Regions from separate parts of the Homo sapiens genome. Here all the other regions are linked to region 2. Evidence: fine-mapped expression QTL. A gene starts in region 2. Each other region holds a variant in brackets. All regions are shown on one strand. Distances are from middle to middle.

Region 1 (2,812 bases), 91 kb before region 2:
GTGTGTGATGGTTGCTAAGGGAAGGATTTGACAGAATGTATCACGGGAACATACATGACTGAGTTAAATAATCAATTAAGACTAAGTGGAAAAATCTGAAAATGGTTTCTTCCAAAAAATGAAAGAAAGCCATTGCAGATAAAAAGGCAACTATGGAGAAAAAATATTTCTCTATTTAGAAAACAGAATTCATGCAATTTCAGGCAGCTCACCGCTAGGCTTCTAGCCATATAAATATTATCTTTTTGCTTATTTTGTTATAGAGAGGATTCAAAAACCCTTACTACTCAGAAAACATCAGAAAAAAAAATCTAGGGTCTGCCTTTGGGTTTTTGTTTCTTCATTTTTTAGGAAAAATAACATTTAATGTTTAAAATATAGCTGTCTTGTTTAATGTTCAGAAAATACTTTTAACAGGATATCTTAAAAATGTGGTTTCTAATCAAGTTTTATAAATAAATTATGCAATATTAAAGTAATATTTATAGTTAAGTATTGACAAAACATTTTTAGGATACAATCGACTCAAATGGTATCTAAACAACAGAAGGAAGGAGGAACTATGTCTAAGAAGGGAAAAAATTCAGAGAATATGGAATCAAATATCCATGCATATCTGACTGTATTAGTCTGTTCTTGCATTGCTATAAAGAACTGCCTGAGACTGGGTCATTTATTAAAAAAAGAGGTTTAATTGACTCATAGTTCTGCAGACCATACAGGAAGCATGGCTGGGGAGGCCTCAGGAAATTTTTGATCATGGTGGAAGGCAAAGGGGAAGCAGGCACGTCTTACATGGCTAGGGAAGCAGGAAGAGAGAGCAGAGGGAGGTGCTACACACTTTTAAACAACCAGATCTCATGAGAACTCACTATCACAAGAACAGCAAGGAGGAAATCTGCCCCCATGATCAAATCACTTCCCACCACACCCCTCGTCCAACATAGGGGATTACAATTCAACATGAGATTTGGGCAGGGACATAAATTCAAACCACATCACTGACTCCTAGTGAGTAGGCAGAAAAAAACTCAAGTGGCCATCTTCATGGCTGTTCCATACTCTAAGTAAGGAAAGGATGCTCAATATCCAAGTATTAAAGACAGAAGATATGTATAAACTGGTTAGTTCCCAGTGAGAAAGCAAACACAATATTCTTGATTAAGATAAATATTATCTTATAAGTCTGAAAAACTGGAATTTTCAGAGCTTTATTAAAAACAGGGTGGCAAATTTGAGTAAAATTCTAATTATAGAGAAACACTGGAAATTACTAGATAAAATCCCCCATGATATTAATCCAGAGGATCAAATTACTGCACAGAGAGTGAGATTAGAGCATCAGCCCCAAACTAGGGAGATTCATAAGTTTGTAGTAGGCAATCTTGAAGGGTCTTGGAATTAAGTCATGGGAAGAGGTTCAGGCAAACAGAACATA[C/T]GAGCAGGCTATCACTGGAAAATAATTCCCATGAAATAAAGGGAAGATATGAAGGGAATTTGCAGGAAAGAGCTATGATCTCTATCCAACCAATTTATGTGAGGGTCTGGTGGCAATGAAGAAAGATCTATTCACAGAGTCACGGACCCAAGTGTGGATTCTAGTCTACAGAAGCACTGGTAAAAGGAAGACACAACTCAAAAAGGAAAAAAAAAAAGTTCTCAAGGAATAAGGAAAGCACCAGGACACATTTTTAGCTCTGGAGCTAACACAGAGGTAGCTGGTGTGAACAACATAGCACCCTTGGAAAGACCAAAAAAACAAACCAATTGAGTGTTATGAAACACATATTCCTATGGCAGTGCCCCGCCTAGGCTCCCAAACCACAAGACTATCATAATGGCCTATATTAGACTGTGCATCATCTCAGAGATATGGAGTGTATGGGAGTCCTCCAGACCAAATAAATGCTTATTGTAGAACCAGAACTTTAGATCAGCACTTGGGGAAACAAAGACAAAGCAATAAAACATGAAGTTAGAATGGCAATTATTAAAAAGTCAAATAACAACATACTGGTGAGGCTGCGGAAAAAGGGAACACTTATACACTGTTGGTGGGAATGTAATTAGTTTAGCCACTGTGTAAAGCATTTTGGAGATTTCTCAAAGAACTGAAAACAGAGCTACCATTCAACCAAGCAACTGGATTACTGGGTATGTATCCAAAAGAATATAAATTGTTCTATGAAAAAGACACATTCACTTATATATGCCTCACAGCACTATTCACAATGGCAAAGACAGGAATCAATCTTGGTGTCCACTAATGGTGGATTGGATAAAGGAAATGTGGTACATATTCACCATGGAATACTATGCAACCATAAAAAAGAATAAAGTCATATCCTTTACAGCAACATGGATGCAGCTGAACACCATAATCCTGAGCAAATTAATGCAGAAACAGAAAACAAAATACCCCATGTTGTGACTTACAAGTGGGTGCTAAGCACTGGGTACTCACGGACATATGGATGGCAACAACTGACACTGGAGATTACTAGAGGAGGTAGGGTGGGAGGGGGCAAGGGTTGAAAAACTAACTATTGAGTACTATGTTCAGTATTGGGATGATGATATCAATCACACCCAAACCTCAGCATCACACCATACACTCAGGTAACAAACTTGCACACGAATCCCTGAATCTAAAATAAAAGTTGAAATTATTTTAAAAAATCAAAATTGAAAATAAAACATGAAGAGGATGGAAAACATAAAAGGGAGGAAGAGATGTGTCGTAGATTACATTTTCCAACAATAGCCACAACAACACCTCCCATTCCACAAGCTCTTCTGCAATGTGATCTTG
Region 2 (2,651 bases):
TTATGGCAAAAGTACAACTCACCAGTCCTAAATTCCTAACTATATTCATAATTTTTATGCACTCCAATTTTGTGACCACAACGTACCAACATTCCTGCACATCTGATGAGGATTCCTTCCTCCCTCCCAAATAAACTCACACCTGTATGTCTTTTTGGTCCCAAATAACTTCCTCTTCCTCCAACCCATCGACAAAATTTTGATTCTGAGTTAATCCCACTTCCAATCCACTGTCTTCTCAAATTTCATTACTATGCAAGCTCCCTTAGAGCAGAGATTTGTATCTGCTTTATTCACTGCCATTTTCTAAACTTCTAAAAAAGTTCTTAATGCATAGTAAGGCCTCCATAAATATTAGCATCACCAAGGGACTTATATCTGAAACCTGTTACTGAAAAATTACTGCCTTCATCTCCGTTAACAAAGACCAAGCAGCGTAGAGACCCCCGGGCTAGCCAGCCACACCATAGGGAGAGGTGGACACCCTTTACCGAAGATGGCGCCACCACCTGAAAACCGAGGAGAACTGGAAGGAAATCACGCGGTCCTCCGCACGACTGATGAAAGGGCCAGACACCTACACAGAAACACCTCCCGACCCACGCAGGATCACGCGCAGCCAAAACACACGACTCCAGCACTTCCTTCGCGCTGGCTATCCCTTCCTCCCTCACCTGACGATCTAACCCGAGCAGCCCAGCCACGCAGGGGATCACTTCCGGCGCACAGGGAACGCAAAGCTCGCCAGAGGAAAAAGGAAACAGAAACTCCGCAACTTGCGCCTTGGAAATACTGCCGGCTAGCGCTGCGGGAAACGGCTCCCCTTAACTCTGAAGTTCCGCGATCTTCTCTTTGTGCGCGGGCGGATGGATCAACGCCGCCAAGTGGTGAGTTTGGAAGGTTTCAAGTTTAGAAGGTTTCAAGTTTAGAAGGTTTCAAGTTTGGAAAGAAATGAAATTATGTGATGAGGTTTCTAACTGGGCCCAGGAGGGGGCGAGGTAGGCAAAACAGAGACTAGCTCTGCCTGGAGGGAAAAAAAAGCAACATTTGTGACCAGCCTAGGCGACATAGTGAGACCTGTCTCTACAAAAAATATATAATTAGCTGGGCGTGGTGGCGCGCGCCTGTGGTCCAAGCTTCTCCGGAGGCTGAGGTCGGGGGATCGCCTGAGCCCTGGAGGTCGTTGCTGCATTGAGCCGTGAACGCACCACTGCATTCCAGCCTGGGCAACAGAGCGAACTCTATCTCAAAACAAAACAAAACAAAACAAGAAAAAGAAAAAAAGAAGAAAATTAAAAAAAAAAAGAAAGAAAAAGAACGTCCCAGGTCTGTTGAAGCACTAAGAAAAGCAGAAAAAGAAAGGGGAGCCAGGGAAGGGCTGGCAGGCTGTGCAATTTAAGGGAGCACCAGAAAAACTGGCAATCAAATAATATATTAATGTAATATTTTAAAAAGTAAAAATTAATGCAGGAAATCCGGGAGGAACAAAATAAGAGTCATGTGTACCTTAACAACAGGGTAAGGTCTGAGGATTGCGTCATTAGGCGATTTTGTTGCTGTACGAACACCACAGAATGTACTTTGACGACCTAGATGGTGGAGCCTGGACACACCTCGGCTCTGTGGTGTGGCCTGCTGCTTCCAGGCTGCAAACCTGACAGCATGGGGCTGTACTGAATACCGCAGACCATTGTAATTCATGGTAAGTATCTGTGTGTCTAAACATATGTAAACATGGAAAAGGTACAGTACAAATGCGGTATAAAAGATAAAAATGGCACACCTGTATGGGGCGCTTACCATGAATGGAGCTTGCGGAACTGGAAGTTGCTGTGGGTGAGTAAATGAGTGAGTGGTGGCCCAACATGAAGGTCTAGGACATTATTGTACCCACTAAACACTTCATAAACACTGTACACTTAGGCTACACTCAGTTTATAAAAAATACTTTTCTTCCTTTAATAAACTTTCACTCACTATAACTTTATAAATCTTCCAAATTTTTTTACGTTTTAACTGTTTTGTAATAACAATTAGCTTAAAACACACACTGTACCACTGTACAAAAATATTTTTCTTATATCCTTATTCTACAAGCTTTTTTCTACCTTTGCTTTTTTTCTTTTTTTTTTTAACTTTTTAGCCATTTTTTAAAAAAACTAAGACATAAACACACACATTAGCCTAGGCCTACACAGGGTCATTATGATCAATCTCAGCCTTCCACTTCCACATCTTGTCCCACTGGAAGGTTTTCAGAAGCAGTGACACACAGGGAGCTGTCATCTCCTATAACAGTGTCTTCTTCTGGAATCCCTCCTGAAGGACCTGCCTGAGGCTGTTTTACAGTTAACTTTTAAAAAATAAGTTAAATAATAATATAATAAAAAGTATAGTAAATACATAAACCAGTGACATAGTCATTATTAATATCAAGTAACACATGAGTAATACATTGCATTCTGATGTTTTAGCAGGTATGATGTCACTAGACGATAGGAATTTTTCAACTCCATTGTAATCTTATGGGACCACCTTTGTATATGCACTGTTGTATATGCAGTCTTTTTCCAAAACATCATTATGAAGTGCATGACTGTATTAAAATTTTAACTGAATACAGGATCCAAGCCAGACTGGAGCCTGAGGCA
Region 3 (2,812 bases), 70 kb before region 2:
ATATACCTATAAATGGAATTCCTGAGTTATAGGGTAACTCTGTATTTAACATTTTGAGGCACTGCCAAACTGTTTTCCACAGGGGCTCACTAGTTTATATTCCCACCAGTAATGAATGAGAATTCCAATCTCTCCAAATCTTCATCAGTATGCATTATTGTCTTTTTTCCTTTGGCCATCCTGGTGGGTGTGAAGTAGTACCTCATTGTGGTTTTGATTTGCATTTCCCTGATGATTAAGGTTGTTGACCATCTTTTCATGTGCTTATTGGCCATCTGGATATTTTCTTTGGAAAAATACCTATTAAAACCCTTTTGCCCTTTCTTACTTGTATTGTCTCTTTACTAGAGAGTTGTAAGAAGTCTTTATATATCTTGGATTCCAGTCCCTTATCAGATATATTATTTGCAAGTGTTTTCTACCATTCTATAATTCGTTCTTCACTTTCTTGATGGCGTCCTTTGAGGCACAAACGTTTTTAAAATTAAGTCCAATTTATCTATTTTGTTGTTTTTGCTTATGCTTTTGGTGTCATATCTAAGAAACGATTACCGATGGTTACAAAGATTTACTCCTATAAGTTTTCTTGTTAAGAGTTGCCTAGGTTTGGCCGAGCGCAGTGACTCACGCCTGTAATCCCAGCACTTTGGGAGGCCGAGGCGGGTGGATCACGAGGTCAGGAGATCGAGACCATCCTGGCTAACATGGTGAAACCCCGTCTCTACTAAAAATACAAAAAATTAGCCGGGCGTGGTGGCGGGCGCCTGTAGTCCCAGCTAGTCAGGAGGCTGAGGCAGGAGAATGGCGTGAAACCGGGAGGCGGAGCTTGCAGTGAGCCGAGATCGCGCCACTGCACTCCAGCCTGGGCGACAGAGCGAGACTCCGTCTCAAAAAAAAAAAAAAAAAAAAAAAAAAGAGTTGCTTACTTTTAGGTATTACACTTACGTCTATGATCCAAGTTCAGTCAATTTTTATATATGGTATGAAGTAAGAATCCAACATCAAGCCAGGCACAGTGGCTCACACCTGTAATCTTAGCATTTTGAAAGGATATCATGGGAGGATCATTTGAGCTCAGGAGTTCAAAACCAACCTGAGTAACACAATGAGACCCCATCTCTACAAAAAAAAAAAAAAAAGGAAACAATTAGCCAGCCATGGTGACATGAACCTGTGGTCCCAGCTACTTGGGAGGGAGGCTGAGGTGGTAGGATTGCTTCAGCCTAGGAGGTCGAGGCTGCAGTGAGCCATGACTGTGCCACTGCTCTCCAGCCTGGGCAACAGAGCAAGACCCTGACTCACAAAATAATAATAATAATAATAATAATAATAATAATAAT[C/AATC]CAACTTCATTCTTTTGCATGTAAATATCCAGTTGATCCAGCACCATTTGGTGAAAAAACTTATTTTACCATTGAATTGTTTTGGCACCCTTGGCTAAAATCATTTGACCATAAATGTGAAGGTTTAATTCTGGACTTTCAATTCTGTTTCAGTGATTCGTATGTTATCTTTATGCCAGTACCACAGTGTCTTGATTATTGCAGTTTTCTAGTAAGTTTTTGAAACTGAGAAGTGTGAGTTCTCAAAATTTTTTTCTTCTTATTCGAAATTGTTTTGGTTACTATAGCTCTCTTACAATACTATATACATTTTAGAACCAGCTTGTCAATTTCTGCAACAACAAAAATAGCCAGCTGGGATTTACATAGGGATTGCATTGATCAATTTGGGGAGTATCGATATCTAAATATTACATCATTCCAATTCATGAACATCAGATATAGTTCCATTTATTTATGTCTTTTCTGATTTCTTTCAGCAATGCTATTTGGTGTTTTAGTGTTAAGTCTTGCACTTTTGTTAAATTTATTTCTAAATATTTTATTCTTTTTAATGCTACTGTAAAGGGAAGTGTTTTCTTAATTTTATTTTTGAATTGTTCATTGCTAGTGTACACGCATACAATTGATTTTTGTATACAGCTCTTGTATTCTGCAAGTAATTTTTTTTCTAAACCTTAGCATCCACCAGAGGAAATGTGTGAGTCTTTTATTAGTTACTGAAGCCATTTATTACTTTTAATGGCTTTTTAGTGTAGGTTCCTTAGGATTTTCTATAAACAAGATCACATAATCTACAAGTTAAGAGAATTTTATTTCTTCCTTCCTAATCTACATAACTTTTATTTCTTTTTCTTGCCTAATCATCCTGGCTAGAATTTCCAGTACGATCTTGAATAGAAGTGGCAGAGCAGATATCCTTGCCTTGTTCCTGACCTTAGGGGAAAAGCATTAGTCTTTCACCATTAAGAATATGCATTTTGTAGATACCTCCTATCAGGTTACAAAAGTTCCCCTCTGTATTAGTCCATTCTCATGCTGCTATAAAGAACTGCCCAAGACTGGGTAATTTATAAAGAAAAGAGGTTTAATTAACTCACAGTTCCACAAGTCTGGGGTGGGTGGCCTCAGAAAACCTACAATCATGGCAGAAGGGGAAGCAAACATGTCCTTCTTTACATGGTAGCAAGAAGGAGAAGAATGAGAGCTGAGTAAAAGGGGAAGCCCCTTACAAAACCATCAAATCTCATGAGAACTTACTTAATATCACAAGAAGAGTGTATTAGTCCATTTTCATACTGCTATAAAGAAATACCTAAGACTGGGTAATTTATAAAGAAAAATAGGTTTAATGGACTCACAGTTCCACATGGCTAGGGGGGGCTCAAAATCATGGCAGAAGGTGAAGGAGGAGCAAAGTCACATCTTACATGATGGCAGTCAAGAGTCGTGTGTAGGGGAACTGCCCTTTA

Direction of the effects. Alleles are on the strand shown, and positions count from the first base shown. SD is a standard deviation of normalised expression in the study named. Not every link is listed here.
In carriers of allele C in region 3, the expression in CD8 T cells of the gene that starts at base 1,043 in region 2 tends to be lower than with AATC alone (moderate effect, 0.51 SD a copy in Kasela 2017).

What was found.
Region 1: its variant is fine-mapped to the expression of WEE2-AS1 in whole blood (TOPMed, PIP 0.98).
Region 3: its variant is fine-mapped to the expression of WEE2-AS1 in CD8 T cells (Kasela 2017, PIP 0.95).

Annotation. Positions count from the first base shown.
Region 1 is chr7:141,827,753-141,830,564 of GRCh38, reverse strand. No RefSeq gene overlaps it. Among named protein-coding and RNA genes, the nearest start is that of PRSS37, 12 kb to the left of the region's middle. The variant C/T (reference allele first, on the strand shown) is at 1,439.
Region 2 is chr7:141,736,434-141,739,084 of GRCh38, reverse strand. WEE2-AS1 (WEE2 antisense RNA 1) reads left to right here and starts at 1,043. Exons shown (of 4, transcript NR_199841.1): 1 at 1,043-1,702. It overlaps SSBP1 (single stranded DNA binding protein 1), which reads right to left and starts at 727. Exons shown (of 7, transcript NM_003143.3): 1 at 675-727. RefSeq lists an enhancer at 825-1,710.
Region 3 is chr7:141,805,966-141,808,777 of GRCh38, reverse strand. No RefSeq gene overlaps it. Among named protein-coding and RNA genes, the nearest start is that of TAS2R5, 17 kb to the right of the region's middle. The variant C/AATC (reference allele first, on the strand shown) is at 1,341.